5 separate regions of the Homo sapiens genome follow, and regions 1, 3, 4 and 5 are each linked to region 2. The links come from fine-mapping of genetic effects on gene expression. A gene starts in region 2. Each other region holds a variant in brackets. All regions are shown on one strand. Distances are between the middles of the regions.

The links. PIP is the estimated chance that this variant, and not a neighbour inherited with it, causes the effect.
Region 1: its variant is fine-mapped to the expression of C1RL-AS1 in whole blood (INTERVAL, PIP above 0.99).
Region 3: its variant is fine-mapped to the expression of C1RL-AS1 in whole blood (INTERVAL, PIP 0.98).
Region 4: its variant is fine-mapped to the expression of C1RL-AS1 in whole blood (TOPMed, PIP above 0.99).
Region 5: its variant is fine-mapped to the expression of C1RL-AS1 in whole blood (INTERVAL, PIP above 0.99).

What each region holds. Positions count from the first base shown.
Region 1 is chr12:7,254,640-7,260,929 of GRCh38, reverse strand. No RefSeq gene overlaps it. Among named protein-coding and RNA genes, the nearest start is that of ACSM4, 46 kb to the left of the region's middle. RefSeq lists a silencer at 1,620-1,820. The variant A/G (reference allele first, on the strand shown) is at 3,234.
Region 2 is chr12:7,106,149-7,112,198 of GRCh38, reverse strand. C1RL-AS1 (C1RL antisense RNA 1) reads right to left here and starts at 3,891. Exons shown (of 12, transcript NR_026947.1): 1 at 3,718-3,891; 2 at 3,252-3,526; 3 at 2,052-2,135; 4 at 1,627-1,901; 5 at 593-1,174; 6 at 135-192. It overlaps C1RL (complement C1r subcomponent like), which reads left to right and starts at 2,985. Exons shown (of 6, transcript NM_016546.4): 1 at 2,985-3,089; 2 at 3,720-3,948. The coding sequence starts at 3,019. RefSeq lists enhancers at 3,044-3,123, 3,764-3,933, 2,766-3,965.
Region 3 is chr12:7,139,064-7,145,353 of GRCh38, reverse strand. It overlaps CLSTN3 (calsyntenin 3), which reads right to left. Exons shown (of 18, transcript NM_014718.4): 9 at 3,950-4,112; 10 at 3,215-3,268; 11 at 2,328-2,485; 12 at 2,043-2,191. Among named protein-coding and RNA genes, the nearest start is that of CLSTN3, 12 kb to the right of the region's middle. The variant C/T (reference allele first, on the strand shown) is at 3,117.
Region 4 is chr12:7,132,314-7,138,073 of GRCh38, reverse strand. CLSTN3 (calsyntenin 3) reads right to left here. Exons shown (of 18, transcript NM_014718.4): 2 at 4,928-5,050; 3 at 4,306-4,501; 4 at 2,539-2,747; 5 at 2,121-2,270; 6 at 1,683-1,868; 7 at 964-1,245; 8 at 7-119. Among named protein-coding and RNA genes, the nearest start is that of CLSTN3, 4.8 kb to the right of the region's middle. The variant T/G (reference allele first, on the strand shown) is at 2,784.
Region 5 is chr12:7,208,948-7,215,237 of GRCh38, reverse strand. PEX5 (peroxisomal biogenesis factor 5) reads right to left here. Exons shown (of 16, transcript NM_001351132.2): 14 at 6,068-6,233; 15 at 5,398-5,555; 16 at 3,779-5,216. The coding sequence ends at 5,015. Among named protein-coding and RNA genes, the nearest start is that of PEX5, 22 kb to the right of the region's middle. The variant TTTTTTC/C (reference allele first, on the strand shown) is at 2,768.

The DNA.
Region 1 (6,290 bases), 150 kb before region 2:
GACACTAATAGTTTCTCAAAAAACTATTTTTTGAGTTCCTGTCTCAAAAAACTGTCATAAAAGAAAGTGAGAAAATATAGGTAAAATTACCTCCTCCTTGCAGAAGCCATCAGCAACAACTTCCTCAACTTGGAGTCTTTCCCTTTCACTCATTTTTTCTCTTCTACATCCCACCTTCCCTGCGTCCAGGGTCAGGAGGAGGGTGTTCTGGATCCCTCCTCTTTGTCTCTACAGTGGCCTCACCCATTTTTCCTTCTCTTTTCTCTTCCAGCTTCTCTGTTACTGACCCTTTCTCACAAGCAGTCAAACACGCTGACATTGTTCCTCTATTTTAAAAGCCAATACCTCACTCTTGGTCTCCTGTTGCTTATATTAATATTTCTCTCCAGATAAAGTTTTTTGTTGTTGTTGTTGTTTTTGTTTGTTTGTTTGTTTGAGATAGGGTCTTTCTCTGTCACCTAGGCTGGAGTGCAGTAGCCCGATCACAGCTCACTTTAGCATTAAACTCCGGAGCTCAAACAATCCTACTGCCTTGGCCTCCAGAGTAGCTGGAACACAGGTGCGTGTCACCATGCCTGGCTAATTTTTTATTTTTTGTAAAGATGATGTATCGCTATGTTGCCCATGCTGGCAGGTTAAGTTCTCAACAGAAAAGTTCACTTTAATTGAGGCTTTTACAGACTTTTCTTCTAGACACCCCTCCACATACTACATTGGCCTCCTGCCCCAACTTCTCTCCTGAAGCTGCCTTTGCCATAATCATAGGGACCCTCTGGGTGCCACATTCAGTTGTTCATTATACATATTGATCTCTTAACAGCATTTGAAACTACTAACCATTCCTTCTTATAACTTTCTCTTTCCTTGGTTTTTATCATATCATTCTCTTCTGCCATTCCTTTTACCTGTCTAACTGTTCCTGCTTCATCTCTTTCTTGGACTCTTCTTCTTAAATATTGGCATTGCAAGGGCTTCACCTTTAGCCTGCTGTTCTTCTGGAACTATATTCTGTGCCTGAGTGACCTCATTCATGTTCATAAATTCAATCACCATTTATACACTGAAGATTTCCCAAGTTCATCTCTCATTTAAACAACTCTTTTGAGAATTAAACCCATTTCTCCAACTATTTCCTGGTATTTCCTGGACATCTTCACCCAAATGTTCAATGAGCGCCTCAAAAAATCAAGAACATAACAATTCTTGAACATATTCCCCTGTTCCCAGAATATAAGTTCAGGAAAATAGGAACTCTTACCAATATTTTTTATTGCTATATCCCTAGAGCTTATAATATTGTCAGACACATATTAAGTGCTCAGTTAATATTGGTTAAATGAATGGAAATTTTCCCCACCAACCTGTTCTTCCCTCTGTATAGCATTAATATTTGCTCAATTATAGCAACATGGTTTCTTGTCATCTCTTTTTTCCTTAATCCTTATATCCCATTGGTTTTCTATGTTCTGTGTATTCAACCTGCTCAATCTAAAGTCCATTTCTTCTCCTACATTCTCACTGATATTTTTCAGGCATTTATAATCTCTCCTTTTGTATCCTCACTGTTCTTATTCATATGATGGGGATAATAATAGGACTTTTCTCATAGGACAGTCATAAGCTTCAGTGAAGTAATATACCCAAACTCTTAGTATGGTGCTGGGATGACTCAGTAAATTTGGCGAGACAGCTGTATTTCTTATGTATCTATATGGATCTCTACAAATACATCTACATGTAGTAAGAGGACAGTCTAGTTAACCTCCATATTTTAGTGTAAGTCCTAACCCAGGAGAGAATGTATTGAACAGATAAATAAATTTGCTTTGTAATGTCAATCAAGTCATGTCCTTGTTGGCCTTCAGATTATTCATTTATTAATTCAGTTAACTAGACTAGCTAGGATCATTTTATAGCATTTTCATATTACAAAGCACGTTCATAGCCATTAACTCATCTTATTTCCATGGCTATTATTCATCTTATTTCCATAGCATTTATTATCATTAGCACCCCAATTTTCAGGTGAAATAACTGAGGCTTAGGATATTAGTTGTCCATAACCCGTCCACTACTTGTTAAAAGCAGAATCAGGATTTGAACCCAGTCTTCTAATGCTAAGTCCTATTGTTCTAAATATTCAGGTGAAAATATATGCATTTTATTTTCGTGTTTCAGGAAGTTGTTTGTGGTCTCTTATTGCACTGTTTTTTCTTGAGTCAGTTGGTGTTGAAGGATGGAACTTAGTGGTAGAAGCCACTCTAGAGCCCTAGTTCCTTTAGCTTACAGAAGAAAAAGAAACAATAAAAATCCATTTCCTTTAGAGGTTGTGAAATCAGAGGAAAAAGCCACCTCATCCCACACCCCAGTTGTAGTCAAGAGCCAGACTTTGCTGAGGCATTTTGGCAGATTGAACCCTTTGTCTGTGTTGACATAGATGCTGAGGGGAGCTTTCTTTATTATGAGATAAAGAGACAGGATCTGAGATTATAAAAGCTTTCACATGTCAGAAAAAGAACCAGTGGGAACAAGTTCATTCATGAAGCTGCCTTAAGGAACTGCAGGTGTTGAGGCACTGGGAGAGACATACACAAATGGATAGATTTCAGGTTTCCAGGACCTCCACCCAGTCACCATCATAAGTACTCATTTGGGGAATCCAGATTGTTCATTGCCTAGCCCAGTGGTTTTTCAAGTATGTTTTGTGGACCTTCAGAGTCAGAAGAATTTGGGGTATTTTCACTTGTTGCCCTATTTACATGATTTTTCTAAATCATTTGAAAGTAAGTTGCAGACATTATTTTCTTTTTTAAATTCTTCAGCATTCATCTTTAAAACATGAGGACATTCTCCCATATAGCCATAATAGGAGAATATTATGACCATCGAAGACATTCATAATTCCTAAATATCATTTATAACCATTCCACACTAAAAATTCCTCAATGGTCCCAAAATGTCTTTTATAGCTTTTTTAAAAGTCCAGGATTCAAGCACGTCTCCTGTAATGTAGAAGAATTCTCTTGCTTTTTTTACCCATGACATTGTCTTGAGAAGAATCCAGATCAGTTGTTGTCTTGATGAATATCTCACATACTGCCTGTGTATTTTTGTGTCCTTGTGGTCTCAATTAACTTGTTCAGGGAAACTGGCAGTCTACTACGCTGCTGAGAGTATAAATTGAGGTCATCTTCCTGGAGGGAAATGGGTAATATATTTTAAAACTTTCACAG[A/G]CTTTAAATTAAGCTGGAGCCCGATTAGATTCAGGATAAACACTTCTAGCAGGACATTTCATAAATAATCCATGTATAACGCACTGCATCATCTTACTAGGCACATGATGTCAGATTGTCCCACTATTGATGATGTTAAATTTGTTCACTTGGTTCAGATGGTGTCAGCCACACTTTGCAAGTGTAACTTTCACCTAGAGGACATAGCATCCAGTTATGATCCTTATCTAAATCAATCATTGGAGATTGCAAAATGTTGATTTCCAAATTCTGTTATTCTTTCTACTTTTACTAACCAGAGTTTTCCTCAAAAAGGAATTTTTCTCCCTCCACCCTTTCATCCCCCAACCCACCCTGAGCATCATGGTAGACTCGGAATTTTAAAGATTCTATGGTTTTTTTTTAACCATTGCCTTGATTATATTCCTTTTTCTTTCTTTTTTTTAATTATACTTTAAGTTTCAGGGTACATGTGCACATGGTGCAGGTTAGTTACATACGTATACATGTGCCATGCTGGTGCGCTGCACCCACTAACTCGTCATCTAGCATTAGGTATATCTCCCAATGCTATCCCTCCCCGTTCCCCCAACCCCACCACAGTCCCCAGAGTGTGATATTCCCCATCCTGTGTCCATGTGATCTCATTGTTCAATTCCCACCTATAAGTGAGAATATGCGGTGTTTGGTTTTTTGTTCTTGCTATAGTTTACGGAGAATGATGATTTCCAATTTCATCCATGTCCCTACAAAGGACATGAACTTATCATTTTTTATGGCTGCATAGTATTCCATGGTGTATATGTGCCACATTTTCTTAATCCAGTCTATCGTTGTTGGACATTTGGGTTGGTTGCAAGTCTTTGCTATTGTGAATAGTGCCGCAATAAACTTACGTGTGCATGTGTCTTTATAGCAGCATGATTTATAGTCCTTTGGGAATATACCCAGTAATGGGATGGCTGGGTCAAATGGTATTTCTAGTTCTAGATCCCTGAGGAATCGCCACACTGACTTCCACAATGGCTGAACTAGTTTACAGTCCCACCAACAGTGTAAAAGTGTTCCTATTTCTCCACATTCTCTCCAGCACCTGTTGCTTCCTGACTTTTTAATGATTGCCATTCTAACTGGTGTGAGATGGTATCTCATTGTGGTTTTGATTTGCATTCTCTGATGGCCAGTGATGATGAGCATTTTTTCATGTGTCTTTTGGCTGCATAAATATCCTCTTTTGAGAAGTGTCTGTTCATATCCTTTGCCCACTTTTTGATGGGTTTTTTTTTTCTTGTAAATTTGTTTGAGTTCATTCTAGATTCTGGATATTGGCCCTTTGTCAGATGAGTAGGTTGCGAAAATTTTCTCCCATTTTGTAGGTTGCATGTTCACTCTGATGGTAGTTTCTTTTGCTGTGCAGAAGCTGTTTAATTTAATTAGATCCCATTTGTCAATTTTGTCTTTAGTTGCCATTGCTTTTGGTGTTTTAGACATGAAGTCCTTGCCCATACCTATGTCCTGAATGGTAATGCCTAGGTTTTCTTTTAGAGTTTTTATGGGTTTAGGTCTAACGTTTAAGTCTTTAATCCATCTTGAATTAATTTTTGTATAAGGTGTAAGGAAGGGATCCAGTTTCAGCTTTCTACATATGGCTAGCCAGTTTTTCCAGCACCATTTATTAAATAGGGAATCCTTTCCCCATTGCTTGTTTTTCTCAGGTTTGTCAAAGATCAGATGGTTGTAGATATGCAGCGTTATTTCTGAGGGCTCTGTTCTATTCCATTGATGTATATCTCTGTTTTGGTACCAGTACCATGCTGTTTTGGTTACCGTAGCCTTGTAGTATAGTTTGAAGTCAGGTAGCGTGATGCCTCCAGCTTTGTTCTTTTGGCTTAGGATTGACTTGGCGATGTGGGCTCTTTTTTGGTTCCATATGAACTTTAAAGTATTTTTTTCCAATTCTGTGAAGAAAGTCATTGGTAGCTTGAGGAGGATGGCATTGAATCTATAAATTACCTTGGGCAGTATGGCCATTTTCACAATATTGATTCTTCCTACCCATGAGCATGGAATGTTCTTCCATTTGTTTGTATCCTCTTTTATTACACTGAGCAGTGGTTTGTAGTTCTCCCTGAAGAGGTCCTTCACATCCCTTGTAAGTTGGATTCCTAGGTATTTTATTCTCTTTGAAGCAATTGTGAATGGGAGTTCACTCATGATTTGGCTCTCTGTTTGTCTGTTATTGGTGTATAAGAATGCTTGTGATTTTTATACATTGATTTTGTATCCTGAGACTTTGCTGAAGTTGCTTATCAGCTTAAGGAGATTTTGGGCTGAGACAGTGGGGTTTTCTAGATATATAATCATGTCGTCTGCAAACAGGAACAATTTGACTTCCTCTTTTCCTAATTGAATACCCTTTATTTCCTTCTCCTGCCTAATTGCCCTGGCCAGAACTTCCAACACTACGTTGAATAGGAGTGGTGAGAGAGGGCATCCCTGTCTTCTGCCAGTTTTCAAAGGGAATGCTTCCAGTTTTTGCCCATTCAGTATGATATTGGCTGTGGGTTTGTCATAGATAGCTCTTATTATTTTGAGATACGTCCCATCAATACCGAATTTATTGAGAGTTTTTAGCATGAAGGGTTGTTGAATTTTGTCAAAGGCCTTTTCTGCATCTATTGAGATAATCATGTGGTTTTTGTCTTTGGTTCTGTTTATATGCTGGATTACATTTATTGATTTGCGTATATTGAACCAGCCTTGCATCCCAGGGATGAAGCCCACTTGATCGTGGTGGATAAGCTTTTTGATGTGCTGCTGGATTCGTTTTGCCAGTATTTTATTGAGGATTTTTGCATCAATGTTCATCAAGGATATTGGTCTAAAATTCTCTTTTTTGGTTGTGTCTCTGCCAGGCTTTGGTATCAGGATGATGCTGGCCTCATAAAATGCGTTAGGGAGGATTTCCTCTTTTTCTATTGATTGGAATAGTTTCAGAAGGAATGGTACCAGTTCCTCCTTGTACCTCCGGTAGAATTCGGCTGTGAATCCATCTGG
Region 2 (6,050 bases):
TCCACAAACCAGGGATGGGGCCAGAGGGAGATGGTTTCAGGATAGTTCAAACACATTACATTCATTGCATGTTTTCTTTCTATTATTATTGTTATTGTAATATATAATGAAATATTAATAATTATACAACTCACCGTAATGTAGAATCAGTGGGAGCCCTGAGCTTGTTTTCTTGCAACTAGACGGTCCCATCTAGGGGTGATAGGAGACAGTGACAGGTCACCAGGCATTAGATTCTCATAAGGAGCACACAGCCTAGATCCCTCCATGCATAGTTCACAATAGGGTTCGTGCCCCTATGAGAATCTAATGCTGCTGCTGCTGCTGCTGCTGACAGAAGACGAAGTTCAGATGGTAATGTGAGTGATGGGAAGCAGCTACAAATACAGATGAAGCTTTGCTTGCTCACCACCACTCACCTCCAATACTGGTCCACGGCTCAGGGGTTGGGGACCCCTGCTTTATACTACAGTCTTCATATATGTTACAGCTACATATGTTATAAACCTCACAATACAATGTTATAATTTTTGCCTGGAACAGTTCTACATATTTTAAAGACATTAAAAAGAAAATCGTATTTTATATTTACCTTCAAATTTACCGTTCTTCTTATTCCTGTCTGCAGCTCTGCTCTTCCAATTTGAGACAGCGTCTCACTCTGTCACCCAAGCTGGAGTGCAGTGGCACCGTCATGGCTCACTGCAGCCTCCATCTTCCGAGCTCAAGCAATCCTCCCACCTTGGCCTCCCAAAATGCTGGGATTATAGGCGTGAGCTATCGTGCCCGTCCTAAAGAACTTTCTTTAGCGCTTCTCATAGTGGAGGTCTGCTGGCGACAAGAATCTCTGTTTTCTTTTATCTGAAAATAGCTTTATTTCATCTTCATTCTGGAAGAATACTTTCACTAGAAAAACAATTCTGAGTTGACTTTTTTTTTCCTTCAGCATTTTAGAGATATTCCACTGTCTTCTGGTCTATATTGGTTTTGATGAGAAAAGAGTGACATTGAAAATATTGTTCTGTCTAGTCTTTAGGATGGGATTAAAAAAAAGAAAAGATTTTCTCTTGTCTTTGGCTTTTAGCAGTTTGACCATGATGTGCCAAGGCATGCCCTTTTTTTCATTGACCACTCTGCCAGTTAGAGACGAGGTCCCAGTGTAGGGGAGGTGGTGCTGAAAACACAGCGGGGCACAGCTCAGCCCTAGCCCACAGGGGCCTGCAGTGACCAGCTATGCACAGAGCCATCAGCTCCTTCTCCAGTCTCACATCACCAGCCATTCCTCCCCTTGCCCTTGACCCTAACTCATGCTGCAGCCGCACACGCCACCTAGGTGAGACCAAGGTGGGCCCTCATCTTCAGAGTGCTGGATTACCCCAAACAGGGACCACATCCAGACCCTGGACTGCCCAGTCACCTGGGGCTGCCGGTGCATCACTGCCTCCCCACCCTCTTGGCTCCCTGTCCTCTTTCTCACCCAGCCTCACTCCAGCACTTTAACCCCTATCCATTTAGGGTGACCACCAGTCCTGGCTTGCCCAGAACTTCCCTCATTTTAAAACGGAAAGCCTCATGTCCTGGGAAACCCGTCGGTCCCACGCAAATCAGAACAGTCGGTCACCCTACCTGTCCTGGAGTTTCCTTCCAAGGCCTTACTCCTCCCTCCTCCAGCTCATCTCCAGGAAAGTCTTCTCAGATGGGCTAGCCTGAGTTTTCCAGTTCCTGCCCCTCTTAGCAAACAAGGAAATAATGCTCTGAAGGGAAACGAGGGGTGGACTCCCCAATCCTGATCTGAGTCTTGGCTGGTTTCTTCTTAACACATGGGTCTTGGGATTGGTACCATTGTTCACTCTTTGGCTGCATCTCTGGCTCCCAAGGTGCTCCAGGTGACCCTAAGAGTTCTATGAGAGAGCAGGTTTCAGTGGTCTCAGGGGAGGAAAGAAGTCCTAGTCAGAGAGGCCCACTCCTCGAAGATGGGTATGGGAGATCATCCCCAGTTGTGTTTGGGGTTGGGGTGTGGCAGACAGGTAGGCTTGATCTCAAGACTGTACCTGAGACATTGCATCTGTCCTGGCCATCACTCTCTTATCATCTCCTTGTAGCCATAGACTGTGGCTCTCCTAAATCTCTCTAGCCTAGAAAAACCAAAGATGCAGAGCACACCCTGTTTGGGTCTGTAACTTGCCTCCATATTACTATATGCAAAATGGGGGAAGCAATAGATTCTTCTCTGAGAGGTGTGTGTGCGCGCGCACATGCATTTGTGTGTGCATACAACGTAAGGCCTTCCACACACCTGCCTTCTCTGAGGATGGGACCACCCATCTCCATAAGAGCCTTCTGGCCTCCTACCAAGCTGTGGGTGAGTGTCCTTCCTCGGGGAGCGGTGAGAGCAGGCAGGGGCTCTAGTATCTGCCTAAAGAAGCTTGAGTGACGGCTTGAGTGATGACTGGGACTAGGGACTGAGGGACACCTGGGCTCGACCCCAGCCCTGACCATGCTGGACAAGCAGCCTCCAGAGGTTGTGAATAGGATTCAAAAGACCACCTAAGCGCATGTCCCCCACCCCTGCTTGGGGAGGAGGGAAAGGAAGAGAAAGCTCAAGTTCAAGGATCACAAACTTCAATTCTACAAGAGGGAGGCTCCCCGGGTATGTCGTGAACGGAAAGGTCGGGGAGGAAGAGACATGGCTGATTGAAGGCAGCAGCCATAACTCACAAGGAGCCATCCTACACACATGGCAAAAATTAATGTTAAATAGTACAAAAGGGTCGAGTCAGTGCCCTGCCACCCTGACCTCTGAGGGCCAGCGAGGTTTTTGGACGTTTCTCCCCTAAGCTGCGGCGGGCCCGCTGTTCCTGAGTCAGACGGCAGGTGGCGCTCAGCCCGGAGAATTGGAGAAGGGGAACTGTGGAGTTGCTTAACATTTCCAGGAACTTCCTCCTCCCCCACCGGCCTTCACCTTTTGTTCCCTATCCTGGGCCAGTTCTCTCGCAGGTCCCAGATGTCCAGTTCCAGATGCCTGGACCCAGAGTGTGGGGGAAATATCTCTGGAGAAGCCCTCACTCCAAAGGCTGTCCAGGCGCAATGTGAGTGTGGCCCCGGCAGAGGAGGAGGGAAGAGGACGGGAGGGGAAGAGAAAGGGTGGGTGGCCGCAAACCCTCCCTCCCCCCACCCTACCCCCCCCACACACACATCCCCCCCCCCCCCACACACACACACACACACACACCTCCCCCACATACACACACCAGCAGCAGCAGCAGCAGCAGCACAGCAGATATTCCATGGGGAGACTGAAATTTGCCTGTGGCCTCTAGCACCTTCCCAGAGGGTGGTCGGGGGATATTTACGGCAGACCCTCACTCGCCCCACCATTGCTCCCTCGGATCCCAGGGTGGGGTGGGATCTGCTGAAGCAGAAAGCACCCCCCTCCTTTGGACGAGACTCTCCTGGGAGATGAGCAAAGGTGATGTCTTCGGAGGATGGAAAACCCACAATCCTAGAGCTCAGGCTGCGCGGGAGGCTGTAGGGATTGGGGTGAGGAAGGGGAGCAAGGGAGGAGACGGGAAGTGCCCGGGCCTCAAGGGTGAGGCCACAGCTTCTAGCCCTGCCTCGCGAGGCCTCTGAGTCCTAGCGCGGCTCCCCCGCTCCTCCCACACCCACAGGCTTCCGGCCATAGCTGCGCGGCCCCACCTTGCCCTCCCCCCAACTCACAGGTGGTGGCTGCTTCTCTGGGGAGTCCTCCAGGCTTGCCCAACCCGGGGCTCCGTCCTCTTGGCCCAAGAGCTACCCCAGCAGCTGACATCCCCCGGGTACCCAGAGCCGTATGGCAAAGGCCAAGAGAGCAGCACGGACATCAAGGCTCCAGAGGGCTTTGCTGTGAGGCTCGTCTTCCAGGACTTCGACCTGGAGCCGTCCCAGGACTGTGCAGGGGACTCTGTCACAGTGAGCTGGGGATGGGGGGGGTCCCGCCAGGACTGTGGCCAGGGAGATTCCCGGGGTTGTGGGAAGTGGCGGTGCCCTGAATCCCCCATCTGGAGGAGGGATGAATTTTCCATGTAGGGGCAGTCGGGCTTGGCTTACCGGGGAGCAGTGGTGGACCCCAGGACACAGCCTCCCACCAGCGCCTCCGGGGCTGCCATCTGGGCCCCACAGAGCAAAGAGGGCAGCAAGCAGGCCCTGCGTTTGGAAGGCTTATGAATGGACACACAAATCTTGCAAATCTATGGAGCCAGGGGCAGGGACGCACATATTGGTTGTTAAAAATATGTCATCATGTATTTGTTGAGTGCCTGCTCTATCAGGTGAGGAAGCTGGACACAAATAATAACAAAAGATTAAGTCACCGTTCACACTTACCTTGGAAGAGCTATTACAAAACTTCTAACGCCAAAGCCTTATTCAGAATAAGGACATTTTAAAAACAGTACTTGATGGAGTGATGCAAGCTTGCAGTCCCAGCAGTATAGTCAGGAGACTGAGGCTGGAGGATCAGAGGGCTGGAGCCCAGGGTTCAAGGCCAGCCTAAGCAACATAGCAAGACCCCATCTCAAAAATAAGTAAATAATAAATAAAAATAAAAAGAGCACATTATCTTTTGATTTAAATTTTATTTATATCAAAATGACATAAATTTTTGAACTTTATTTTTTAATTTTAAAATTTTTAATTATTATGGATACATAATAGTTGTAAGACTTTTTGTTTTTTAATTAAAGTTTTCTAAGGCTGGGCGCAGTAGCTCATGTCTGTAGTCCCAGCACTTTGGGAGGCTGAGGCGAAAGAAGCACTTGAGCCCAGGAATTTGAGACCAGCCTGGGCAACATAGCAAGACCCCATCTCTACAAAAAAATTTAAAAATTAGCCAAGTGTGGTGGCACGCACCTGTGGTCCCAGCTACAAGGGACGCTGAAGTGAGAGGATCACTTGAGCCTGGAAGGTAGAGGCTGCAGTGAGCTCTGATCATGACACCGTACTCCAGCCTGGGTGACAGAGTGAGACCCTGTCTCCAAAAAAAAAAAAAGGTTTTTAAAAAGGTTTATGAATAACAGCAGTCTCCAAGCTGTTCCTCCCCGCCCCTGAGTGCTGCTCCTCAGGAGCAGTCATTTGCCAATTCATGTAGCTGTTTCATCTGGTCTTTAACTTCATATGTATAAATAACATGCTTATTTGTCTTTCATTTTTACGTATTTTCTATTAATGCTCAACTACAGTATAGAAGATAAGGACTAGCTTTATCTGTCTTCAGTCTTCACCACCCACATTTCCCCTCCTCATTCTGCCAGTTTACCTATATTATCATTTTTAGTTAAATCTTTATTCATTATTTACATTATTATGACTGTAAAATATTCACATCTGAGCACATAGCATAAAATAATTATATTTCTTTTCTTCTCCAACTTTTGGGTTTCCTAGGAGTCAATAGTTACATGGAGTTTTTTTGTTTTGTTTTGTTTTGTTTTTTGGTGGGGGGTGTTTGTTTTTGTTTTGCTTTTTAGTTTGCTTAGTTGTCTCTGTAACTAATCTCACCAGACTCTTAACCAGGAGTGTAAATCTTCTTCTGAAATACTCAAGCATGAATTTCAGTCTATCGGTCCTCCTTTTAATTGGTGACATCCCTCCTGAAGATCTCTCGATTTATTTTCACAGCCTGAGTTCTTTGCTCTCTAAGCCGTCACACATTCTGGGAGTTCTCTTCTCCCTCTTTCTGGGGATTTCCTTTACCTGTGCTGAACCTGAATCCCATACCTTTCTCTTTTTTGGTTTACTCTCCCATTTTGGAGGAGCACCTTCACCAGTGGCTTCCTTAGAAAGGGTATTTTAGAGTGAATTTTAGAAGATCTTATATATGTCTAAATGTCTCAGTTCTACCCTCACAGTGGAGGGATAGTTGATCTGGGTATAGCATTCTAGATTGGAAACCTTTTTCTTCCAGAATTTTGATGATATTGTCTTCTAGGTCTAGACTTTGTTAAGAAGTTTGATGCCCTTATCATTCCTAATCCTTTGTTTTCTCTCTCTAGAACTTTTGGAATATTTTCCTT
Region 3 (6,290 bases), 33 kb before region 2:
CACACACCCCTCTATATTTTCTCCCGTGACCTCAGGGAAGTATTAGGATAGCACCAACCATGTAGTAACCTTAGAAATGGAGAAATGAAAACTCTGTTTCTTAACCTCATAGAGAAAACATCAAGGCCCCTTTCCTCAAAGGCAGGTTCCAAGCCCTTGGATAAACCTCTATCCTGGGCATGAAAAAGATAGCAGGAATTCAGATGAGGCAGTCAGCAAAGAGAATGTCAACTCCTCCCCCCGCAGGAACTCCCCTTGCAGAGCTCCACCCTAGGCCAAAAACCAGAGCCCTCCCTTCTGCCATGGCTCCTCAGCACTGGAGGGGACGAGGCAATGCCTTGGCTTCTGAGGGATCAAGCCTTTCATAACTGGATGACAGCCCTTTAACAACTGGAGCTCTGACTGGGACATGGCGGGGTGCATACTCAGCAATCAGCTGCACCCACATTAACTCAACTGCCTGTGACCTTCAGCTCCACACCCTGAACCAGCAAATTCCCAAAAGCCACAGCCCGGGGCCTTCCACAGCTCTAACTGTGAGGCCTGATAATCACGCCCAGTCACCCTCTAGGGCTCAGAGCCCTCTCCCCTCTAAACCCACCCCTCCCAGGATAGGGGCAAATTTGAGATGTTTATCTTCATATAGCTCACAGAGAAACTGAGGCAGAATCGGGGAGAGGGGTAACAAGATTGGAACGCAGAAATCCTAACTCTTAAATCATGTAATTCACCCACTAGATGGCAGTATCTCCTAAAAACCGCCCATAAACCATAATAAGGGGTGAAAATGCCTTTATGTAATAATAGCCAGCATTTAAGCGGCATCCACTCTCTGCTAGGCATTTGATCCAGATTATATCATGTAGTCATCGTAACAATTCCACGAGTTAGACTCTATTGCTATCACCACTTTATAGCATTTGCCCAGTGCCAAAAAGCTAGCAATAGACCCTATGCTCTTAACTATCATACTTTCGTTGCCTCTCAATTGATCTGTATTTTTAAACATGTAATATATACTCAAACCTTGAAATAATCTACAATTTTTCTTTTAAAGACTCCAAAAGTCATTCACTTAGAATTCAGAGGTCAGTAAACTTTTTTTTTTTTTTTTTTTTTTTGAGATGGAGTCTCGCTTTGTAGCCCAGGCTGGAGTGCAGTGGTGCAATCTCGGCTCACTGAAACCTCCGCCTCCTGGGTCCCAGTTCAAGCAATTCTCCTGTCTCAGCCTCCCAAGTAACTGGGATTACAGGCACGTGCCACCATGCCCAGCTAATTTTTGTATTTTTAGTAGAGACAGGGTTTCACCATGTTGGCCAGGCTGGTCTTGAACTCCTCGTGATCCATCTGCCTTGGCCTCCCAAAGTGCTGGGATTACAGGCGTGAGCCACCGTGCCCGGCCAGCAAACTTTTTCTATGAAGGATTAGATAGTTCTGTTTGAGGGGGCCATATGATCTTTGTCCCAACTACCCACAGTTCTGCCATCACAGTGAAAGTAGCCATAGACATATGCAATGAATGGGCACTGCTGTGTTCCAATAAAACTACAAAACAGGTGGGCAGGCCAGATTTGGCCTAGGACTGCCAACCCCCAGACTTAGGCCATCGTACGTGACCTTGCAAGAGCTTGGTGAAGCAAGATTAAAACAAGTGAAGCAGCCAGGACTCACCATTTGCCCGAGGTTATCCAAGCAATTCGCATTGAGTCAGAATTAATGTCAGGTCTCCCCACTCCCAATCCTGTGTCCCACTTTACGTATCAGCACAGAGGCATAGAGAAGATCAAAGCCCGGAAACCCTAGATGTGTGACTTGGTAGAAAGAGTAACAGATTGATTGTTGAGAAATCTGAGTATAGTCCAGACTCTTCTACCAATATTGCTATGTGACCTTCAGTGGTCAATTGTCTCCATTTGAGGGCCCAATCTCCTCATCCATAAAACAAAAGAGGTATGCCTAGCTCTAGGTGACGCCTTAGGCCAAGGAGCTGTGACACTGTCTGGCTCTGCTTGGTGATTTGCCCTGCCCCACCCAACACTCACTTGACAGCAGTGGTGAGGCGCAGGGGCCTGACGCCGGGCGTGGCAAAGCGCAGAGTGTTCATGTAAGCCACATGCTGCAGGGCATGGTTGAAGGTCTCCACATCATCCCCCTCCAGGGTGAGCAGGGACTGTGAGGGGTTCACGTGGACCTGGGCCCCAGACACAGATACAGCTGAGAGCAGGGCCAGGAGGTGGCAGAGGAAGGGAGCAGAGGTAGAGGGGTAGGGCAAGGGGGTGGGGCAAGGGGCATGCTGGGAAGAACAGGGCTAGAGGATGGGGCAATACCTTCATGCCTTTGCCCAGGCTCTCGAAATCCCTATAGTCCAGCCCCTCCCGACATGCATAGAGGCACTCGATGACCTCGCGGCTCTCCAGGCGACCTGAGCGCACGCTGAAACCAGCCAGGTAGCCATGGAAGTAGTGGTGGATCGACAAAGGGTCTCCTAGGGTAGGAACACAGGAGCAGGACGGGAGGTGAGAAGAGAGGAGGATGGAAAAGGACGAAGGCTGAGAGAAAGGGAAAGGAGAGAAAGAGCAGAAGAGTTGAGAAAGAAAAAAAGGAGAAATGTGGAAACCAAAAAAAAAAAAAAAAAGGAAAAAAGAGAGATGAGAGGTGAGGGAGAAGTGAAGGTAAGGGGGGAGGCTAGAGAAGGGAGAAAATGAGACAAAAGAAGACAGAATAAAGCCAGGGGAGAAGAAGAAGGGTGAAAAGTAGAAGCAACAAAGATGAGAGGGAGGAAGAGAAGGAAACAGGACCAACAGGAGGAAAGAGTCAAAACAAGGAGGGAGGGGGAGGCGGCAGGAGAGAACGTCTTTCCAGTGACATGCAGGGAGACCAGGATGGATGTGAGCGAGCTTCACAGATGCCCAGACCTTCCCCTTCTGCGTGTCTGACTCCTGACTCCTGCCACCTCCCTTCTACCATGTGGAAAGCCACCAAGAGAGCCCCATTCTTCATTCTGTGGGCAGGACAGGATACCCAGAACCCAGCCAAGCTGCCTCTAGCCTTACCACTCCAGGAGCCCCTGCCCTGCTGTATTTCTTGGAGGCTCTGCCCCCTGGTGGCCTAGGAGG[C/T]TGTCACAGGCTGGATAGGATTTGGGGTGGAAAAGGGATCTCAGAACAGAAAGTGAAGATGAGAACTCTCTGGTCTCCAGTTCTTACACACGGAGTACCTTGGGTGGTGTCTGTACTGTTGTCTCCCTTTTCCTTCTCTTTGTTCTTCTCCTCTGGGGATAAAAAAAAAAAAAAAACAGTGCTGGTGAGCTCAGGGATGTGGAGAGATTGACAGAGAGGAATGAGATGTCTTCCTCTCATCCCCATGAGTGCTCTCATGCCCACATGGGATTCTGACCCTGCCCATGTATAACTTGCAACCTCTCAGCTCAGCCCCAACCCTTCTTTTGTCATGTTCCAACCTCTCCAGCCTCTATTATAGACAAACCCCCAAATACGATATGCTGCTGAGGAAACACGTGGGCTCTGGTAAGACAGACAGGCACATGTGCACACACACACTCCCAAGAGGAGAAAAATTTTTTCAATGGCTTAAAAGTTGGAAGACCGAGGACACTCTAAGGGGTTACTCTCCTTGAGCAGGGGAATGGGCTATGGAAGTCATCATCACTTTGATGGAAAAAAGTGGAAACTGGCTGGAGTTACAGAGAGAGAGTCTGGGGATGCGTGAGAAGTTAATTCCTCCAAGTCAGAGGTGATGACCCATTGGATTAGTGGGAGATACGGGAGGGAGGCTGTGGTCCCTTCCCATGGAGATCTTCAGAGTCACCCTGCACAGCTGCAGAGAGATGCAGGAGGCGGCCTCAGCTGCTGGGTCAGACTGCCCTTGCTCCTCACCAGCCTACCTCCCTTCCCAAATCCTGAACCACTGGAGTCTTCACTGAGAAGCTTACCAGTCCAGCAGGCCCCAATCATGAGAGCAGGCTCCCTTCGGGGTGGGTGGATGAGGCCATTGTCATGGATGAGGGCAGGGTCGAAGGAGATGCCGTCGGTATAGAGTGTGACTGTGGGGAACTCGAGGTTCAGAGCGTAGTGGTGCCACTCATCATCACAGACCTGGGAGAGTAGGGTAGGGGCAAGAGCCTCTCAGGTAATTCGTCTTCAGAGAGCTAACCCTAGGCACTGCCCCATCTCCTGGGAGACAGGGGACAGTCCCTTTATTCCCAGTTCTACCAACAGGGCTTACTAGTGCTTTGCTGCCTATCCAGCTCGAGGAATAACATCCTTGTCCAAAATCTATCAGGCAACCAACCTAGTAGCAAAGATTCCACTCTTCAGGTAAATCGTTAAAGCTATAAATATTCCTAAGAGGAGTAACACACTTTCATGAATAAATTCCCTGCCCCCCGAACTTATGTATTACATATGTGTGTAAGGCACTGGAAACTCTAGAGATGGGGTTTCCTTCTGTCCCCCAGGCTGGAGTGCAGTGGTGCAATCATAGCCCACTGAAGCCTCAAACCCCTCGGCTCAAGCAATCCTCCCACTTCAGCCTCTGGGGTAGCTGGGACTACAGGTATGTGCCACCATGTCCAGCTAATTTTTTTATTTTTTAGAGATGAGCTATCACTATGTTGCCTAGGCTGGTCTCCAACTCCTGGCCTCCAGTGATCCTCTCAGCCTCCCAAGTAGCTGGGATCACAGGTTATCTCTAGGATAGCTTCTAACCCAACATTAAGCACTAAAATAAATATTGCTTCCCTTTGCAGTCTCTCCTAGGGCCAGCCAAGATGGAATGGGGGATGGTCAGAGGAAAAAGGGGCAGAGAGTACTCTGCCTCATCCAGTTCCAAATGTTGGGGTCCCTCAAGGCTCAGACCTAGGCCCTCTTCTCTTTCCTCTCTACACTCTTTTCCTAGAAGTCACCTCATCTGTTGCCATGGGTTTGGGTACCATAGTTATACACTGGTAACTCCAAAATCCACATCTCCAGCCCATAACTCTCCTCTGAATGCCAGATTCTCCACTTGGATGCCCACAAGTATCTCACATTTAACACGTGTAAGGTGCAAGTCCATGCCCTTTCCCAACTCCCTCAGTTTCTCCCCAGGCAGTATAAATGCTCCATCATCCATCTAGCTGCTCAAGTGGCTGACGTAGGAGACAACTTTGATCTTCCCTTTCCCTCAGCCTCCACATCCAGTCCATTAGCAGGTGCTGTTGATCCCAGGTCCAAACAGAGCTACAAGCTGCAGGTTTCTGTGCAGGTCTCTCCGTCTCCATTGCCACACATCAGTCATGTCTCCAACCCCTTTCATGAAGACTGTTGCAACAGTCCTGTTTACTGTCACCATTAGATACCTTCAATACAACCATCCCACAGTTGCCAAGGGGATCTTGTTAAAATGTAAATCTGGCCAGGCGCAGTGGCTCACGCCTGTAATCCTAGCTCTTTAGGAGGCCAAGGTGGGTGGATCACGTCAAGAGATCAAGACCATCCTGGCCAACATGGTGAAACCCCATCTCTACTAAAAATACAAAAATTAGCTGGGCGTGGTGGCACACGCCTGTAGTCCCAACTACTAGGGAAGCTGAGGCAGGAGAATCTCTTGAACCCGGGAGGCCGAGGTTGCAGTGAGCCAAGATCGCACCACTGCACTCCAGCCTAGTGACAGAGTGAGACTCCATCTCAAAAAAAAAAATAATAATAATAATAATAATAATGATGATGTAAATCTGATCAGGTCATGCCTCTGCTTTAAAATCCTTCAAAAAACACTTCCTGTCTCTCATATGACAAAAATCTAGACTAACCCTGCTGAAAAAGTCCACTGTACAACCTGATCACTGCCCATCTCTGCAACTTATCTCCAGTCTTGTTCACTGTACTCCAACCGCACTGGCCCTCTTTCCATGCTTGGAACATGCTGAGCTCTTTCTTGCCTCAGGGCCTTTGCATATGCTCTTCCCTCTTCCTGGAACCTTCCCACACTCTTCCCACACCCAGCTATTTCTCATCCTTTAGCACTAGGCTTAAATTTCCCCTCAGTCAGGTCCCCCAGGAGCACCCAATCTAAGGCAAGTTCTCCTTTCCTTGCCTCCCGCCATGCTCTGCCCCAGTCCCTTGCCTGCTTCTTTCAGAGCATTTCTCACAATTTATCATTTTACATGTCTATTTACTTTTTAAAACTTTATCTCCCCAACTGAAATGTAAGTTGAATGATGGCAAAGATTTTGTTTCATTCATTGTATTCCCAGAACCTAGCTGAATGACAGAGACTTAGTTGTATTTAAT
Region 4 (5,760 bases), 26 kb before region 2:
CCTCACCTGCTCCAGCTTCCAGAGGAACTTGACTGGGCGGGCACTCTCAAGCAGGGGCCAGTAGAGGAAGGCAATCCTACAGCCGTGGACAGTCAGCGAGTAGTGAGAGAAGCCGTCCTCTGAGGGCACAGGAAGGGGATGGGGTCAAGTGCAGAGGCTGAGGCCAGAACAAGTTCAAAGCAGCAGGAAGGAGAGGATGTTGGATTCTCTTAATCCTCTCTCATTCCCTCGTTCTCTAGCATTTTTCTTTCCTCTCTCTCTCTCTCTCTCTCTCTCTCACACACACACACACACACACACACACACACACACACACATTCCAGTCCAAGTGATAACTTGGGCTTCTTAGGCACCCTGGCTGGCTGGCTGAGGAGGGAACATCAGCTGGCCCACTCCATCACCAGCTCTTCATCAGTCCTTTGGTTAATACATACATCATGGGTGACAACCCTTTTCAAAAGAGTTGTCAAGGTCAAGAGAAATGAGGTTGGAGAATTGGCTAGAAATGAAAGAGCAGGTCAAGACTAAGCCCTCTCCAGTGAAGTAGGCCCTGCAGTTGAGGGAAGAACAGGCCTCGGAGTTGGGGCCAACCAGTCCCAGGATGGGATGATGAAAGAATGGGGCACACCATTACCCAGGCTTTCCCATTGCAATGGAGGGGCTTTAATGGAGGTGGAGATGGGGGGTGGGGACAGCCTACCACATGGTGGGACACAGAGAAGTTGACTGGGCAACTGAAAACAAGAGTAGCAGCAAGGAATCCCATTGCACTCTGACAGCAGTACGATCCAACATGTCATGTTGGGGATAAAGCACAGAATCAAGGCATATCACACCTGGCACTTGCACCTCACAAATGAAGAGAGGGGAAGTGACCTGTTCACAGTCACACACTGGGCAGTGACAGAGGCGGGACAAGAAGCCAGTTTCCCCCTCTGGCTAGTGCCTGGAGGGGAGGCTCACCATTCTGGACAGTGTTACATACGATGGTTTCCTCTTCCTTCTTGCCCTTGTTGGGAGTTACGCCATGCTTCATCCAGAAGGACAGGGTGAAGTGGTCACTGAGGCTGTCCTGGGGCCCAGAGCCCAGCCCACTGGGGCCACCCAGGGGCACCTGCACAGCCTGGGTGCCATTGAACCAGTAGATCAGGCTGCTGTCCTGGCTGTAGTGCACCGAGAGTCCTGCTGTCCAGTTGGCATTGGGGCCAGGCATGGGCAACAGATCCACCTCCCCAGTGGCAGCACCTGTGGGAGCCCCAGGAGGCACAAGTGTCAGAGCCAAGAAGCAGCAGATGGTGAAAAGGGCAGGAGGCAGGGAAAGAGGGACTGATGGGAAAAGATTTCCTACAGCACGTCTTGCCACCTTTTATGGCCTTTCAAAGACAAGAGAGGGATGAACTCACTTCTAAGAGTATCTCTCCAGTTAACCCATTCTCCAACTCTTCATCTCGCCCTACCATTGTTCCACCATGCATCCGGTGACTGTCTGGTGCGATGACTATGCATCTTTGCCAAAGACATATGTACCTGCCTTTTGGGCCGCAAATGCTAATCGTGTCACAACCTCTATGGATAAACACCTGTGGATGGCCAGTGGTGATGTAAAGCAGAGTCTTGGAAAAGTTTGGACAGAGGTTGGATGGGAAGGGATAGGCCTGAGGCAGTGTTGGGGGCACACCTACCACAGAGTTTCCGCAGCGCCCGCTCTGAGTAGTTGTCACGGTCACAGCCCTTGGCCACATGGCTGGTCTGCAGCTCTATGGTGGCCTGAATGTTCCAGAGTGGTTCATCACAGGTCTCCAGGCGGATACCAGGGAACAAAGCCAAGCTCCCAGCACCTGGTGCATATTCGATCCTTTTGTTCCAGCCTGCATGGGTGAGACAGAGAGGGTGATGGGGAGAGAGAAGGGTAAAGCAGCCTCCCCTCTCCATGCTCCTCTTGCCATGTCCATGGACAGTTTGGGGCTCCTGGCAGGATGGCCCGGCTAGAGTAGATAGCTGCAAGCCTGCCCCAATATCATCCAAGCCCTAGCCTGGCCCCCATGATTGTCAGAAAGGACAGAAAGAGAGACCAAGAAAAAAGATGATTCACAAGATGGGGCACAGCGCTGAGCTCTCACCTTGCCAGCTGGGTTTACAGGTGGGCTTCACCTGAATCTCCACCTCAGCATCATCTGCTGCCCGCTTCTTCCCACAGTCATAAGCTGTCACTGTAAACTTATAGAGCCTCTCACCACTGTACTGCAGCTTCTCTGTGTTCTCAATGTTCCCTGGGGTGGGGTCAGGAGGACAGAGCATTAGAGCATTGGAGAAAGCCCAGGGCAGGGAGGGGAGGATGTCTGAGATCATCGGGCAGCAGGCAGGTTAGGCAGCAGGACGCTGGGAAAAAAGGCATCTGGGAGGAGAAGGCTCCATTTGGGAAGAAGGGTGAGGTGAGGGTCTGAGGGGCAAAAGTGGAGAATGCAACCCTGGGTTGTCCTGAGGGAGGTGGGTGCTCAAGGGGAACTGGGTGGCCAGGGAAGCCAGGGGTGGACTCACCGTCATTGTCAATGAGGAAAGGGGTGTTGGGTGTGAGAATCTCATAGTAGCAGATCTGGCTGTACTGGGGGGAGCAGTCACCGTCAATGGCTTCCACCCGCAGGATGCGATCGTACAGCTTCCCCTCTGTCACAGCCGCACGATACAGCCGTTCCACAAACACTGGGGCAAACTCGTTCACATCGTTGACCCGCACATGCACAGTGGCCCTGCATATGCCAGAGAGAAGGAGGGATGAAGACACG[T/G]CAGCCAGCCTCGACATTATACATTGAGATACAGCCTTGATACAGCACACCGAGGTACAGCCTCGATACGGTACATCAAGATACAGCCTTGATACGGCACATGGAGGGACAGGTTCGATACCGTACACCAAGATACAGCCTCAATACTGTACACCAACAAACAGCCTCAATATGGGCACAACGAGATACAGCCTTATACTGTACACCAAGGTACAGCCTCGACACGGTACACCCATATGCCAGAAAGGAGCAAGCAGGAATCCCGACGGAGAGCCAGAACAGGAGGGAGCCTGCCCATCTATCCCTGAGACTGAGGCAGTCAGCACGCTCCTCCCCACCCCACAGGGCACCAAGCTGCATCAAAGTCATGCCAGGGAGAGGACAACACCAGAGGGAGGGCCCAAAGAAAGGAGGACTGATGTAGGGGATGAGGAACAAGGCCCAGGGGTGCTCAGGAGCTGATTTTGATGACTTCTGTGCAAAATGCTATGGGTCAGGGTGCCAAGAGGAGGGGTAAGGCATAAAATCCAGCAGGGCCTTCCTTCACAACAGTCAGATCCGGGGGGATAAGCAAGGAAGATGCAGAGTAAAAGCCAAATTAAAACCAGCCATAAGAAGGGAAATGGCATGTGTACAAAGGTCACAAGTCATCTGACATGTCTGCACAGTACGTGTGGGCAGTGCTGCCTCCCGCACATGCGGCCCCTCCCTAGTCATGCACCGGGGCAAGCAGAGCTGGGTCGAGGCCCTTCATGCTGAGCCCTGCCCCAGGCCAAGACCCAGGCTCCCAGGCCCCAGAGGCAAGGGTCCTATCTTCAAATGGGAAACTGAGTCACAAAGAGCATTTTATCTCTAGTGCCTCTTAGTGGCTCAGGAATCCTGACTGAAGATCTTTCTCTTATTCTCAAATAAGAAGTTAGCTGGCAACAAGCGTAGGTGTCCCAGACCCGAGCCTCTTTCTTGCTACAACCATCGCCTGCCCACCCTCACCTAGAGCTATATGTGTATGATAGGGATCGTGTGTGTGGTATACACTGCAAATAGACTGGAGGGGGCAGTTGAAAGGGAACTGGATGCATGCTGAGTGTGTTCATCCTCTTCCTTCTTGCTCTCCTCCTCATCATTATGCCCATGTACTGTGCCCTTCAACGTGTATCAGGCACTGTGGTGCATGCTTTCAACACAAACCATCTCCTTGAATCTTCACAGCAGCCTTATGAAGTAGGTGTCATCACAATCTCCATTCTACAGATAAGGAAAAGCAAGTCCAGAAAGGCTAGGCTGCCCAAGGTCATGAGAGGCAAAGCCAAGATTAGATCCACTGAACTCTACTATACGTTTCTGTCACCTTGCCTGAAAGTCCCTAAATCCTAGGAACAGCAGGGGATGGGGCTCCCTAAGTCCTAGGAACAGCAGCGGGTGGGGGTGGATATTCGATGACCGCACGGACAGAGGATGGTGGGCTTGGGAGCAGGGAGGAGGACCCTGCAACACATGGGGCAGGAGACAAGGACTTCCTCACTTGTGGGACTTCTTGGTGTTGGCCCCGTCGGGGCCCTCGCCACAGTCATAGGCCTGGATGGTGAAGGTGTGTTCCTTCTGGGCCTCGCAGTCCACAGGCTCCTTGGCCCGGATCAGCCCCTCTCCTGTCGCCTTGTCAAGGATCACAGCCTCAAAGGGCACCCCAGACCCATGGAGCCGGAAGCCGCAGATCTCACCTGGCAAAGGGGAGAAGGGGAGGAGTGAGGCTGCTGTGTCTCCTTCCCCACCCTCAGTCTCCCCACCTGGGGTCCAGCTCCACCTCTCCTCCCAAAGCCCTGTCCCTTCTCCTGTAGGCACAAAAGCATTAATGATCAAACACGCAACTCTAAGCCCAGCTTCCCTGAGCAGCAACCTCCCAGAGCCTCCAGACCTGAGATCTGACAAAATCATGATGTGTTTAACCCTTGCCTGGCCATGTCCTTTTCTGGCATCCTTGACTCAATCTCCATTCTTCAGTGGAGACCATTCCCCTCCTTGAGCCCACTTTTATCTTCCCTTACTTTCTCATCACTCCCAGGACCTTCCCTCCCTCCCTTGCTCTTGGCCCTCCCACCCACTTTTCTCTGTCCTACCCTGCCTTGCCATCCCCCAATCCCAATTACCTGCATAGCGCAGCGGGGCATCCTTGTCCAAGGCAAAGAGTGGTGGATTCAGTAGGACCGTGTTGTCATTCTCCATGACGATGCCCTGGTACTCTGCCTCAATCCATGGCTTGTGCTTGTTGGCTGGCCCCACCCCAGGGAGAGGAGAGGAAGCACCTGTGAGCAGGGCCTCTACTCCCACAACAACCCTTGTTGACCCAGACAACTCACACCCCAGCACCATCACCTTTTCCACCCCCTATAGGAGCACCTTACAGGAGGCGGGTGGTTGAGGACAAGAAATCAGCTACTAAAGGAGTCAGAGGGTCTGCGGGAGGTCATAGCCTTCTCCTATAGCAGGGTAGACAGTTCCCATGGAAACAACCTGCCCTGGGGGTGAAGAGGAGGGGATCACTATCTCCATGGGAACCATGGTCAGGAAGTGGAGAATGTTCTTTAGCGATTTCACGTGCTAGAGAATGGAGACAGGGAACTTCAGGGAGCAGTGGTGGGCTGTGAGAAGGCCCTGGGAAAGGGAAGGGATAGATTAAGGGCAGAATTGAAACTAGAAAAAGATCTAGAAGTTTCCTGAGATCCTGATTGCTTATCCTCCTCCCAACTCATTTCAGTCCTGATCCCTTCACTCTGCACTTCTCCCAGCCAAGCCCCAACTTGAGGCCACTCTCCCAGAACACAGGATGGGGAGAAAGGAGAGAAGTGAAGATATATAGGACAGAGGGAGGGGGCAGAGAGGGGCAGGAATGGAGCAGAGGAATCAATGCTGAGCAACTGGACCCAGCAGAGCCGTCATCCTAAGGGATTATCGGGCTGGCCTAGAAACATGACAAATCCCG
Region 5 (6,290 bases), 100 kb before region 2:
TTTTAATAATAGTCATTCTGACTGGTGTGAGATGGTATCTCATTGTGGTTTTGATTTGCATTTCATTAGTAATGTTGAGCATTTTTTCATTTATTTGTTGACCAAATGAATGTCTTATTTTGAAAAGTGTCTGTTCATGTCCTTTGTCCATTTATAAAATAGTTTTCTTAACCTTAGCCTTAGTGACTGCAAATTTTGCGGACTACAAAGTCACCCAAATGCATAATCTGAGTAAAATTTTAAGATGCCACGTCTCTGATAAATTTGGGTTATCAACAATAATTGTATTGCTCATTGATGCTAGCTTCAATATAATTTCTAAAATCCCAAGATGAATTTAGAACTTTTGACTAATATAATACTGATATCATTATCAGTATTATATTAATAGGTAATAGTCTATATCCGAAGATTTCCAAAGAAATTAGTTTCAACATCTATTCATGTTTTTAATGTAAAAACATGAATAATGTAACATTCACAATTTTTTAAGAGAATAATTCTTTTTTTATTTTATTATTATTATACTTTAAGTTTTAGGGTACATGTGCACAATGTGCAGGTTAGTTACATATGTATACATGTGCCATGCTGGTGTGCTGCACCCATTAACTCGTCATTTAGCATTAGGTATATCTCCTAATGCTATCCCTCCCCCCTCCCCCCACCCCACAACAGTCCCCAGAGTGTGATGTTCCCCTTCCTGTGTCCATGTGTTCTTATTGTTCAATTCCCACCTATGAGTGAGAACATGCAGTGTTTGGTTTTTTGTTCTTGTGATAGTTTACTGAGAATGATTTCCAATTTCATCCATGTCCCTACAAAGGACATGAACTCATCATTTTTTACGGCTGCATAGTATTCCATGGTGTATATGTGCCACATTTTCTTAATCCAGTCTATCGTTGTTGGACATTTGGGTTGGTTCCAAGTCTTTGCTATTGTGAATAGTGCCGCAATAAACATACGTGTGCGTCTTTATAGCAGCATGATTTGTAGTCCTTTGGGAATATACCCAGTAATGGGATGGCTGGGTCAAATGGTATTTCTAGTTCTAGATCCCTGAGGAATCACCACACTGACTTCCACAATGGTTGAACTAGTTTACAGTCCCACCAACAGTGTAAAAGTGTTCCTATTTCTCCACATCCTGTCCAGCACCTGTTGTTTCCTGACTTTTTAATGACTGCCATTCTAACTGGTGTGAGATGGTATCTCATTGTGGTTTTGATTTGCATTTCTCTGATGGCCAGTGATGGTGAGCATTTTTTCATGTGTTTTTTGGCTGCATAAATGTCTTCTTTTGAAAAGTGTCTGTTCATGTCCTTCGCCCACTTTTTGATGGGGTTGTTTTTTTCTTGTAAATTTGTTTGAGTTCATTGTAGATTCTGGATATTAGCCCTTTGTCAGATGAGTAGGTTGCGAAAATTTTCTCCCATTTTGTAGGTTGCCTGTTCACTCTGTTGGTAGTTTCTTTTGCTGTGCAGAAGCTCTTTAGTTTAATTAGATCCCATTTGTCAATTTTGTCTTTTGTTGCCATTGCTTTTGGTGTTTTAGACATGAAGTCCTTGCCCATGCCTATGTCCTGAATGGTAATGCCTAGGTTTTCTTCTAGGGTTTTTATGGTTTTAGGTCTAACATGTAAGTCTTTAATCCATCTTGAATTGATTTTTGTATAAGGTGTAAGGAAGGGATCCAGTTTCAGCTTTCTACATATGGCTAGCCAGTTTTCCCTGCACCATTTATTAAATAGGGAATCCTTTCCCCATTGCTTTTGTCAGGTTTGTCAAAGATCAGATAGTTGTAGATATGCGGTGTTATTTCTGAGGGCTCTGTTCTGTTCCATTGATCTATATCTCTGTTTTGGTACCAGTACCATGCTGTTTTGGTTACTGTAGCCTTGTAGTATAGTTTGAAGAAGTCAGGTAGTGTGATGCCTCCAGCTTTGTTCTTTTGGCTTAGGATTGACTTGGTGATGTGGGCTCTTTTTTGGTTCCATATGAACTTTAAAGTAGTTTTTTCCAATTCTGTGAAGAAAGTCATTGGTAGCTTGATGGGGATGGCATTGAATCTGTAAATTACCTTGGGCAGTATGGCCATTTTCACAATATTGATTCTTCCTACCCATGAGCATGGAATGTTCTTCCATTTGTTTGTATCCTCTTTTATTTCCTTGAGCACTGGTTTGTAGTTCTCCTTGAAGAGGTCCTTCACATCCCTTGTAAGTTGGATTCCTAGGTATTTTATAGCTTAATTCTTAAGTCATTTACACAGCCAGACTTTGTCATGTCCTGCACCTATGTAGTGTGGAAACTGCTCCTCCACCTGCCCAGCCCACTTCCCGCCTGGGTCTTTGCACCACCAACCTGCAGAGCCCAAGACACCAGCTGCCTCGTGATCCCCCAGGTGGTGACAGGTGCCACAACAGCTTCCTGTTTTCCTCCCCCAGGTGTTTAATTTTCTCCTCTAGAAAAGTATCAAACATGCACCAAGAAAATTTGAGAATTACAGAGAAGTATGATCTCCCCACTTTTAGCACATTGGGATAGTTCCCTATTGTCTTTTCAATGCATTTTTTTCTTAAGACAATCTGTAAATAATTGACCAACCATTTTTCTCACTATATTGTTAGCATCTATTGTCACTGGAAATTATTCCATAAATGATTAAATAGCAATAGCTATATTTCACTGTCTGGACAATTTACTTACCCAGTTGTCTTTTAGACCTGTTTTTTTTGTTTTTTGGGTTTTTTTTTTTTTTTTTT[TTTTTTC/C]TGGCAGCTTTTGAGCTCACCGGAAAAAAAAAATTAGACTTTGGCCAGGTATGGTGCTCCTCCCTGTGATCCCAGAACTTTGGGAGGCTGAGGCAGGATTCCTTGAGGCCAGGAGTTCAAGACCAGCCTGGTCAACATAGTGAGATCTAGTCTCTATTTGAAAAACTTTTTAAATAAATTTAAAAGTTAGACTTTTTTTTGGCTGGGCACGGTGGCTCACGTCTGTAATCCCAGCACTTTGGGAGGCCGAGGTGGGTGGATTGCCTGAGGTCGGGCGTTCGAGACCAGCCTGACCAACATGATGAAACCCTGTCTCTAATAAAAATACAAAATTAGCTGGGCGTGGTGGCACATGCCTGTAATCCCATCTACTTAGGAAGCTGAGGCAGGAGAATCGCTTGAACCCAGGAGGCGGAGGCTGCAGTGAGCTGAGATCACGCCATTGCACTCCAGCCTGGGCAAAAAGAGTGAAACACTGCCTTAAAAAAAAAAAAACAAAAAAAAAAAAATTTTTTTTCCAAGTCTAATGTGCCCACAAACATCTATCTCCAAGTATAAATATTTGTGTATATTTTTAAATTTTTCCTCAGGATAAATACCCATCTTGATATGGCACTTGATACAGTTCCCGATAAAGGCAGGCAGAGCCAGATGAAAAGCTTTAGAAACCCTAAGCACTGAAAAACTATCAAAATCCTTCCATGTAATTCATAATACAAAACAACCTAACAATTATATGGCACTGCACACTTTCCTTTGTAGTAGTAACAGGAGTAAAAATTCATGATTATCGACATCTCTTTCTCCTGCTAGCCCAGAGGCCCAGAGAACAGGGACCCTGTCTCCTGTGCTCTATCATTTTTAGAGGGATGAGCAGGTAACCAATATACCAGTGAGAATTTGAAAGGCAGAAACTGTTGAATCCCAGTCCTCCAAACGCCAACTCACCTTCTGCCATCCCAGCTTCATGACCAGCAGAACTCATACCCACATCAGTTCCATTTATTCTTCGTACAAATATTTTACAGTTTTATTTTTAAATCATTTACACATATTCATACAAAGAAAAATAAATTTCAGGATGGAATCCTGGGACCATGGTAGTTTAAAAAAAAAATCTCTCTGATCATTAGCTACTAAAGACAAGGCAAGAGGCTTAGCAGTCATTTCTGGGGGTTAGTGTATCTCCCCATGCAGGGGACAACTGAGAAGAATCCAAGCTGCTCCCTCATCTTCCTTCGATCTAGATGGGGGAAGGGGATTTTCCAATGCTCTCCCCTAGAAACATTTCAAGAAGTACAGCAAAGGCTTATGGTAACACTGAACCTATTTGCTAGAAATCTGGCAAGATTGCACTTTCTGAACCAATTTTCTATAACAGTTGGCTCAATTCCCATTCACAGGTGCTTCTAAGAGGATGAGGGATTGCCGCACTCACCATACCCCCTTCCCACTTGCTCTGTCCTCCCACCAACGTTCCTGAATAGAGCCCTTGATCTCTTCTGATCTAGTCCCTCCCCGCTCCCACCCAGCCTCATTTCACAAGCAAACCTTCCTCCTATGCCACACACCCAGACACTCTGTAGCAATTGGCCCTGGCAGCTCCTGAGGACCGCTGCAGTGATGACACAGGACTATTGCATCAGCATCGTGCTCACAGGGAATCAGAGCTCAGCCAGGAGAGGTCCAAGAATGACAGAACCATGAGCACTCCTACCAAAACTCAGCTCTGCTCAGCCAAATCAACAATTCAACCCAACAGGCCAACTCCTAACACATCCCATCCAGACAGACATTAGAGGCGCACAGCAGATGAACCTCCTACTTACACTGCCCAAGGAAGCTGGACTATCAATTCCCAGTAAAAGTGGGGGAAAGGACAGACATTACAGATGTGGTAGACCCTATCAGAAATGGCAGCTGATGATAACAGTTACCCTAAATCGTGGGGTCCTACCCAAAAAGCAGCACCAAGAAAGGGCATGATGAGCAGAGAGATCTGTAGCTGGATGTACAGCCCTTGAATTACCAAGGGACTCAGAGATGACACAGCTCATTTTCCTACAATTATGTAGGAACTAGAACACAGACTACCCACCCCTACGTTGAGGCAGCTCCTGAAAGGCCGTACCGCTTATGGTCATCAGCCCGCCCCCTTGGTAGGCCCATTTGGGGAGAGGGAATCACATCCAAAGCGGGGATCCCTCCAGGTGGACACTCACAGGGCAGCCCGTCCCACTGTCACTGGGGCAGGCCAAACATAGTTAGGAGGGTGGACAGATCCCGCGCGTCGGCTGCCCCATAGGCATCGCTCTGGCCTAACATAGACAATGCCAAACGCAGGGTGCTCCAGATGTTCTCCGACATGGCACCTCCTTCACCCCGGGGGCCCCGGCTTTTCCTCTGCATGTTCAGGGCCTCCAGAAAGTGCTCCACAGCCTCCCTGTAAGGAAGAAGAGGAATGAGAGCTGTTAAGCTGAACAACAATGGAAGGAAGCAGGTCAGCTAGCAGTGGGAGGGAGAAAGCTAGGGCTGGTTAGTCAAACAGGATCTAAGAATAAGGAGCTAGGGCCAAAGGCAGGGAGAAAAAGCTCATTCATTCATTTCTCAATAGATACTCTCACCGGTGAGCCCCGAGGTTGATGCAGCTGATGCCCAGGTTATAGCGGGACCGGATATAGCCAGGCTGGAGCTCGAGGGCCCGGCGGTACGCAGCTACTGCTTCTTCACTCTGGTTTCCATTGGCCAGGGTGGCGCCTAGCTTATTCCACAGCAAATAGTCCTGGGATAGGGATGCAGAACGGATGGGAACAGCTTGACTCAGCTCAAACTCTGCACATTACTCCACCGACTCAGCTCAAACTCTGCACATTACTCCAGCTGTTTCACTACTCTGTTAGCTAACATGTTTCGTCCCATTCCATTCTCAACAGTTCGGTGTGTGGCTACAATGTAGCCCCTCTCACCCTATGCAGACTCTCTTATGTCCAGATGACCCTACACTCCCAGCCTTCTTTTCCCAGTCCTCCCAAGGCAGTCAGTACATGGAACACTGGAATGAAATACCCCAAGACTCCAAAAGTCTGAACAAATTATTCTTTTTTGTGGGGGTGGGCAGGGTCTTGCTATGTTGCCCAGGCTGGATTTGAACTCCCAGGCTCAAGTGATCCTCCCACTTCAGCCTCCCAAGTAGCTGGGACTACAGGCATGCACCATCAAACCCAGCTTCCCAACAAATGGCTCTTCAATAAGGTACACAGTCATGTCCCATTTCCATTCCTCCCCTGGGCTCACATTGGGACGAACGCTGAGGGCAGCTGTGAAGCAGTCCACGGCCTTGTCATACTCCCCACTCAGGTTGAAAAGGACTCCCAAGCCACACTGCACATCAGGGTCAATGGAGGTAGGGTCCAGCCGCACAGCTGCCAGGAAGAGCTCTTTCACTTCAAGAAACAGGGAGCTGGATGAAAAGGAAAAAAACACAAAGTAGGTAGATGAATGTCTCTATTCCCATCCC